Homo sapiens: one gene and its partner. The protein of the gene in region 2 interacts with the protein of the main gene of each other region in a biochemical or structural test. Each region holds a gene or a part of one and is shown on either strand. Other genes may lie near its edges.

Region 1 (3,751 bases), on a different chromosome or scaffold from region 2:
TTAAAGAGGCTGAGGCGGGAGAGTCGCTTGAACCTGGGAGGCTGAGGTTGCAGTGAGCTGAGATCGCACCACTGCATTCCAGCCTGGGTGACAAAAGTGAAACTTTGTCTTAAAAAAAAAAAAGAAAAACGGGGATAAAAATTGGTCTTATCAATATCTAATATATTTGTCAGATACTCTCCCTAGGGGCTTAGGATTTAGCAGTACATCAAACAGACAAAAAAAAAAAAAACCCTCTGCTTTTGTAGAACCTTTCTTCTGGCAGGGGGTGGCTTGGGAGTAGATAAGGGAAAAATAAATCTATGAGAAATATTTTTTTTTCCTTTTTTTTTTTTTTTTTTTTTTTTTTTTTTTTTTTTTTTTTTTTTTGAGTCAGAGACATCCGCCACCACCCCCAGCTAATATGGCAGTTTGCTTTGTTGGTCTTTCCAGCTTTATTTTTTAGCTTTTTTTTTTTTTTTAATCATTTGATAGGAATGCTGCATCTATTTAAAATTTGAAAATGGGAACGCTGTAATTCTGAGGAGACGAGATAAAGGCAATATTTTGAATTGCATAGGGTAGGGAGGTTAAAGGAAATTTATATGACCTGATTTTATAAAATACCACATTTACAAATACCACCTTTTGAAACGGAGTCTCAAGAAAAGGGGCAAAAAATCTGTATGTTTATTATAGACGATTTAGACAATGAAGGTAAGCGAAAAGAAAAAATATTATATCATTATACCTTCTCTTAGAACTAACTGTATCATTGATTTTTTTTGGCAGGGGGAGGGGAGACAGAGTCTCTGTCACCCAGGCTGGTGTGCAGTGGCATGCTCTCAGCTCACTGCAACCTCTGCCTCCCAGTTCAAGCACTTCTCATGCCTCAGTCTCCTGAGTAGCTGGGGCGACAGGCATGTGCACCACCATGCCAGGCTAATTTTTGTATTTTTTATATTTTTAGTAGAGGTGGGTTTTTGTCATGTTGGCCAGGCTGGTCTCAAACTCCTGGCCTCAAGTGATCCACCCACCTTGGCCTCCCAAAGTGCTGAGATTACAGGTGTGACCCACCATGCCTCGCCCCATTGATGTTTTATTTTATTTATTTATTTATTTTTATTTATTTATTTATTTATTTTTGAGATGGAGTCTTGCTCTGTCGCCCAGGCTGAAGTGCAGAGTAGCTGGGACTACAGGCGCCCACCACCACGCCAGGCTTATGTTTTGTATTTTTAGTAGAGACGGGGTTTCACCGTGTTAGCTAGGATGGTCTCGATCACCTGACCTCGTGATCCTCCCGCCTCGGCCTCCCAAAGTGATTACAGGCATGAGCCATCGTGCCCAGCCGATATTTTTAAAAATCTGTTTGCTTTTTTTCATATTTAATTATGGCTATTTATTTATTTGAGACAGAGTCTCACTGTGTTGCCCAGGCTGCAGTGCAATGGTGCAATCTTGGCTCACTGCAAACTCTGACTCCCGGGTTGAAGCGATTCTCCTGCCTCAGCCTCCCAAGCAGCTGGGACTACAGTCGCCCACCGCCGCCGCCACCGCCCCCGGCTAATATGGCAGTTTGCTTTGTTGCTCTTTCCAGCTTTATTTTTTAGCTTTTTTTTTTTTTTTTTAAATCACTTGGGAGGAACACTGCATCTATTTAAAATTTGAAAACGGGAACACTGTAATTCTGAGACGCGATAAAGGCAATATTTTGAATTACATAGGATAGGGAGGTTAAAGGAAGTTTATATGACATAATTTTATAAAATACCGCATTTACAAAGCTTTATAGATTTTATTTATTTATTTATTTATTTATTTATTTTTTTGAGACGGAGTCTCCCTCTGTAGCCCAGGCTGGAGTGCAGTGGTGATCTCGGCTCACTGCAAGATCCGCCTCCCAGGTTCATGCCATTCTCCTATCTCAACCTTCCGAGTAGCTGAGACTACAGGCGCCCGCCACCACGTCTGGCTAATTTTTTGTATTTTTAGTAGAGACAGGGTTTCACCATGTTAGCCAGGATGGTCTCGATCTCCTGACCTTGTGATCCGCCCGCCTCAGCCTCCCAAAGTGCTGGGATTACAGGCTTGAGCCACCGCGCCTGGCCTGCTTTATAGATTTTTAACCAAGCCTTTTTGTTTATAATTGGTAAGAAATTTATGGCAAGAACTTAGAATGGTATTTACTTTCTTTTTTAAAGTGTGCATATTCTTTAGAACTGGGAAAAGGATCCTGACCTCCATTGTAGAGGACGCTTATCCTTATTTTATGTTTTCTATTCCTTTTGACCTTTAACCTTTGTTACAGGCAAAGAAGAGTAAGACCAAAATGCCATCTTTGGTAAAAAAGTGGCAGAGTATCCAGCGTGAGTTAGATGAAGAGGACAATTCTAGTTCCAGTGAAGAGGATCGGGAATCAACTGCACAGAAGCGAATTGAAGAGTGGAAACAGCAGCAGCTGGTTAGGTAAAAGAAAAGGAAACACAGATGAGATGGGGTTTTGGAGTAGGTTGAGACCTACTATGAGATGGAGTAGGTTGTGGTTGTTATAGATGCATTAGAATAGACATATTCTTAAAATCACAGCTTGTAAATTTATCTAAAGGTTTCTAATTTATAAACATGTTTAATTCCTTATAGAAATTATGGGCTAGCCTTTTTTCAAAATCAGAAACAACAGAGTTGTAATACTTTGTCCAGTTGATTGTTGGTCTTAGGCAAAGGCCTGTCTTAACTCTCAGTACATCATTTACTATCTAGATCCAGTGGACCCTTTTATACACACACACACACACACACACACACACACACACACACATACACACATAACATATTAACTTATTTTACAAATAATTTATAGAATTAGACCCTTTTATACACACACACATTATTGTACAAATGATTTACAGAATTAGAATAAAGTTTTTCCCCTGTCCCTATATTTCAGTCAAGCAGGGTAGAATACAGAGCTGCCTTCTCAATTGCACTTATTCTAGAACAGAAGTTAATGAGAGAGCACACCACACTAGGAACTAAATGAACCTCTTCTAGGTAAGAAAATCCTTCACTACCTTGCTTGACTAGAATAAAAGGATAGGGAGAACTGGCTTCAAGTAATTGCACCTCAGCCTCCCAGAGTGTTGGGAATACAAGTGTGAGCCACCACACTCAGGTCAGAAATATTTTTTATGATGAAAGCACATGTTGGGCTGGGCACGGTGGCTCACGCCTGTAATCCCAGCACTTTGGGAGGCCAAGGCGGGTGGATCACGAGGTCAGGAATTCGAGACCAGCCTGGCCAACATGGTGAAACCCCATCTCTACTAAAAATACAAAATTAGCTGGGCCTGGTGGCGAATGCCTGTAATCGCTGAGGCAGAAGAATTGTTTGAACCCGCGAGGCGGAGGTTGCAGTGAGCCAAGACCGTGCTATTGCACTCCAGCCTGGACGACAGAGCAAGACTCCATCTCAAAAAAAAAAAAAAAAAACATGTTGGGTGGGCACTGTGGCTCACACCTGTAGTCCTAGATGCTTGGGAGGCTGAGGCAAGAAGATGGCTTTCTCAAAAATTCTAGAAATTTTAAAGACTTTAGACACAGCAAGTACAATTTTTTATTTCATATTTTCCTTGTTTTGAAGGTATACATTCTGAAATGGGCAGCATTCTTTGACTGCAACTCACTGTTCATCAATTGTCAGTGTATAACCTAGAATATAGCTGTCTATTACTGATGCCAGATTTCAAATTAATCTCTGATAGGTTCTAGC
Region 2 (3,751 bases):
CATCGCATCTGGCCTATATTTTATATTATATATATATAATTTATGTAGATACGTGTTTTGTTTTCATTTCTGTGGGTAATTTGGAAATCCTCTCCCTTAACCCCTTAAAGAAGGCCTTTAGGTTCTCTAGTTAAAGGGTTCTAAGCTTCACATCCAAAAATCAAGTTTCCAGGCACTCAGAAGACAATTTCCAAATAAACCTTTTTTTCCTTTTTTTTTTTTTTTGAGACGTAGTCTCGCTCTGTTGCCCAGGCTGGAGTGCAGTGGCGTGATCTCGGCTCACGGCAGCCTCCGCGTCCCTGGTTCAAGCAATTCTCCTGCCTCAGCCTCCCAAGTAGCTGGGATTACAGGTATGCACCACCACACCCGGCTAATTTTTATATTTTTAGTAAAGATGGGGTTTCATCATGTTGGCCAAGTTGGTCTCGAACTCCTGGCCTCAGGTGATTTGCCCACCTCGGCCTCCCAAAGTGTTGGGATCACAGGCATGAGCCACCAAGCCGGGCGGAAACTTTTTTTATTGTAGAGATGAGGTCTCATTATATTGTCCAGGCTGCTCTCGAACTCCTAGCCTCAAGTAATCCTCCCACCTAGGCCTCCCAAAGTGCTGGGATTACAGGCATAAGCCACCGCACCGGTCCCCAAAGACTTTTGAAAAGTGTGGGCTCATTAGGAGAACTAATCCAGAAGGAAAAGAGATGGGAGTGAGTGCTTTAAATGGAAGAAGAAAATAATCTGCGGAGGGAAGGGAAAGTTAGAGAGGGCACCAGGCTTTTGATGGCTTATGGGACAAGTAGGGACCTAAGGCTCCACTTGCATATAGCACACCAGGATGTGGAGAACGTCGTAGGCGACTGTCCACTATGTACCTTGCCTTTGAGAGTAGTGGCAAGGGTCTCTTTGAGCAAGTCTGGAGTGGTAGAAGAAGCCATCCTAATGATGCAACCAACGTGGATTAAGGATCTGGTCTCTACCTCACTTTTTGAAGGAAGAAACACTTAATTGGCAATAATGACGGCGAAACAAAACAAACACAATTCAGAAAAAGCAGTAAAATATGTAAAAAGAGCTAAAATGCTGCTTAAGATTTCCCGTACCAACAATGTCAACCGTTTTAGAACCGACTGGAATATATGTAATACTGGAAATATATATACTGGAAACAACTTCTTGTGTTCCCTGATGTCTGGGACCCTTTTCTTTGCTAGACTTCAGATCTCTGATCTGAACCATCCCTCTTAGTTCAAGTACTCCAATCGCCTTCAGTGTTTCCACCAAGCCGTCCTTCCTCAATTTCTCCCTCCAGGTTTCCCTTCCCCAACTTTCCCCCTGCATCAGACTCTCCCTCAGCCTTCCTTTCTCCCTGTGCAGTCTGTCTCACTCCTGTCTTCCTCCCCAGGCGGTCTCAATTCTCTCTCCCTCCCCTTTCCGTGACCCTCTCGGCAGTCTTTTACTTCCTTACTTCGGTGACCGCCCCCCACCCCACTCCCCACAGCCTCCCTCCACTGCTCAGCCGTTGGAGAGGGCGTGGCCCCGCGAGTAACAGGTCTCCCGCCCCACACTCCGCGGGCCCGCGCGCAGACAAAGACATTCCACAGCTCCCGCCCCCTCCACGCCAGAAAGGGGAGGAGACACGTGTTCCGCTAGCGCCGAGTCACGTGGAAAACGAAACGAACGGAGCCCACTGCCTCCCGCGCATGCGCATCAAGCTCTGGCCTGGCGGGAGCGGAGGGAAAGCCAGAGTCGGGAGGCGACTTCTCGGACGCCGCGGCGGTGCGCAGGCGCCGTGGCCGGACTGGGGACTTTGTTCTCCGCGGAGAAACCCAAGGGCGGTGCCGGTGGCTGGCTGCGCACGCGCGCCGCCTCATTTCCGGTGCTCTCTCTCGCTGGGTCGCTCGGGTCGGCTTCGGTCGCTACCGCTCCCGCTCTGCCACCCCCGCCAACCGCCGCTCGGGCCTCCGTCGCTGCCGCGTCGCTTTCTCGCTCCTTGGATCGCACATCCTCCCAGATGCAGCGCCGGGACGACCCCGCCGCGCGCATGAGCCGGTCTTCGGGCCGTAGCGGCTCCATGGACCCCTCCGGTGCCCACCCCTCGGTGCGTCAGACGCCGTCTCGGCAGCCGCCGCTGCCTCACCGGTCCCGGGGAGGCGGAGGGGGATCCCGCGGGGGCGCCCGGGCCTCGCCCGCCACGCAGCCGCCACCGCTGCTGCCGCCCTCGGCCACGGGTCCCGACGCGACAGTGGGCGGGCCAGCGCCGACCCCGCTGCTGCCCCCCTCGGCCACAGCCTCGGTCAAGATGGAGCCAGAGAACAAGTACCTGCCCGAACTCATGGCCGAGAAGGACTCGCTCGACCCGTCCTTCACTCACGCCATGCAGCTGCTGACGGCAGGTAAGGGGGCCTCCCGTGTCCCTCTGGGTCGCCCGGCCATCCCGGGCATGAGTGGCCCTGGCTTTGTTCCTCTCGCTTCCCGCCCCCTCGGGACCGAGGCAGTCGGGAGTTCCGGTCTCATCCTCATTTTTGGGAGCCTGGATTCCACATTCCCACCTCAGCCCGGAGTGCGTGGGAGAATTTCTAGGCTGCAGTGGAGGCCCGAAGGCGACTTTGCGATCCCCTAGCGCTAATGTCTTGATGGATAGTGCTGAGCTCCCCGCCCCTTTCCCGACTCTTCCCTCCTCCCTCCTCTTGCGGCTGCCGGGCGCGCAGATTCTTCCAGAAATGAACCTTCATTTCCCCCTTTCCCTGAAGGGAAACCCTTTTTGATCGCGGGTGGCGATGAGCGCCTCGACCGAGGTGTAGGAGGTGAAGACAGCCAGAGCGGGGAGGGACCGTGGGAGGAAGGGCCGAGGTGAGGTGGGGTGAGGCTGGAATGCCCTGTCCAGTGCCTTGCTGTCGCTGGGGCCGAGCCGGACTTAGCGGTAACCGCAGCTTAAGTTGCTGGGAGGAAGGAGCGATTTATGTGGATCGGAGCTTGAGGTTTCCGAATCAGATTTCCGACTAAGGCTGATAAAATAAGAATTGCTACTGAGCCATTTTACACCGTGTGTTCACTGTCGTTGAAGGAGTGAAGTAACCCTAGAGACAGTGAAATGGGACGATAGGGACTCCCGCGTAGTTCACATGACGTTTCCCAACGAGATGGACAGAAATTGAGAGAAGTTGCATGATGCTTGTACTGAAAGGCTTGGCCTTTTTGTTGCTGTTTTTTACATTTTTGATTCAGTAGTGAAATAGATTAGAAATGAGAGTCTTTGTTCTGTAGGTTAGCGCTCTTTTCCTCATCAGCACTGGCCAATCACCTAGTCGCTCTGATTTTTCCCTAAAGCTGTCTGACTTTCGCTTCTAGTTAAAATATTATTTTAATATTTTTTATGATACCTAAATTTTACTAAGCAAGTAAAAATTCACATCCTTCAACACTGAATGAGTAGTTGGACTCTTTGGCAAGGTTAATATAATGGACAGTTCATTATGAAAATATTATCTCCCTCCCTTTGTTCTCTGTCTCCCAACACTGTAAGGTAAGGGATCTTTACCAGTGTGGTGTTCATCTTTTATGCTTTCTTAAGATAACTGTCAAAAACTGTTGATCCTTAAAAGTTACTTTTAATTTTCAGTCTCCCCTCACTGCTTAACTAAGAGAGTGCTCTTTATTTTTAACTTGGGCTTTCTGGATGTATTTTTTTTAAACCCAACTGAAATTGGAGAAATGTGATTGAGGTTACTGTTGGTTTGGGATGTATGAATTCTTT

What was found.
Region 1: the proteins of KHDRBS1 (region 2) and FNBP4 form a complex in vitro, tested with the Homo sapiens proteins (2 studies listed by BioGRID and IntAct, with this or other methods).

The regions. Positions count from the first base shown.
Region 1 is NC_000011.10:47,718,626-47,722,376, reverse strand, and holds part of FNBP4 (formin-binding protein 4), read left to right. Parts: intron 1-2,290; coding exon 2,291-2,448; intron 2,449-3,751.
Region 2 is NC_000001.11:32,011,988-32,015,738, forward strand, and holds the start of KHDRBS1 (KH domain-containing, RNA-binding, signal transduction-associated protein 1), read left to right. Parts: upstream 1-1,880; 5' UTR 1,881-2,008; coding exon 2,009-2,390; intron 2,391-3,751. UniProt on the Homo sapiens protein: Recruited and tyrosine phosphorylated by several receptor systems, for example the T-cell, leptin and insulin receptors. Once phosphorylated, functions as an adapter protein in signal transduction cascades by binding to SH2 and SH3 domain-containing proteins.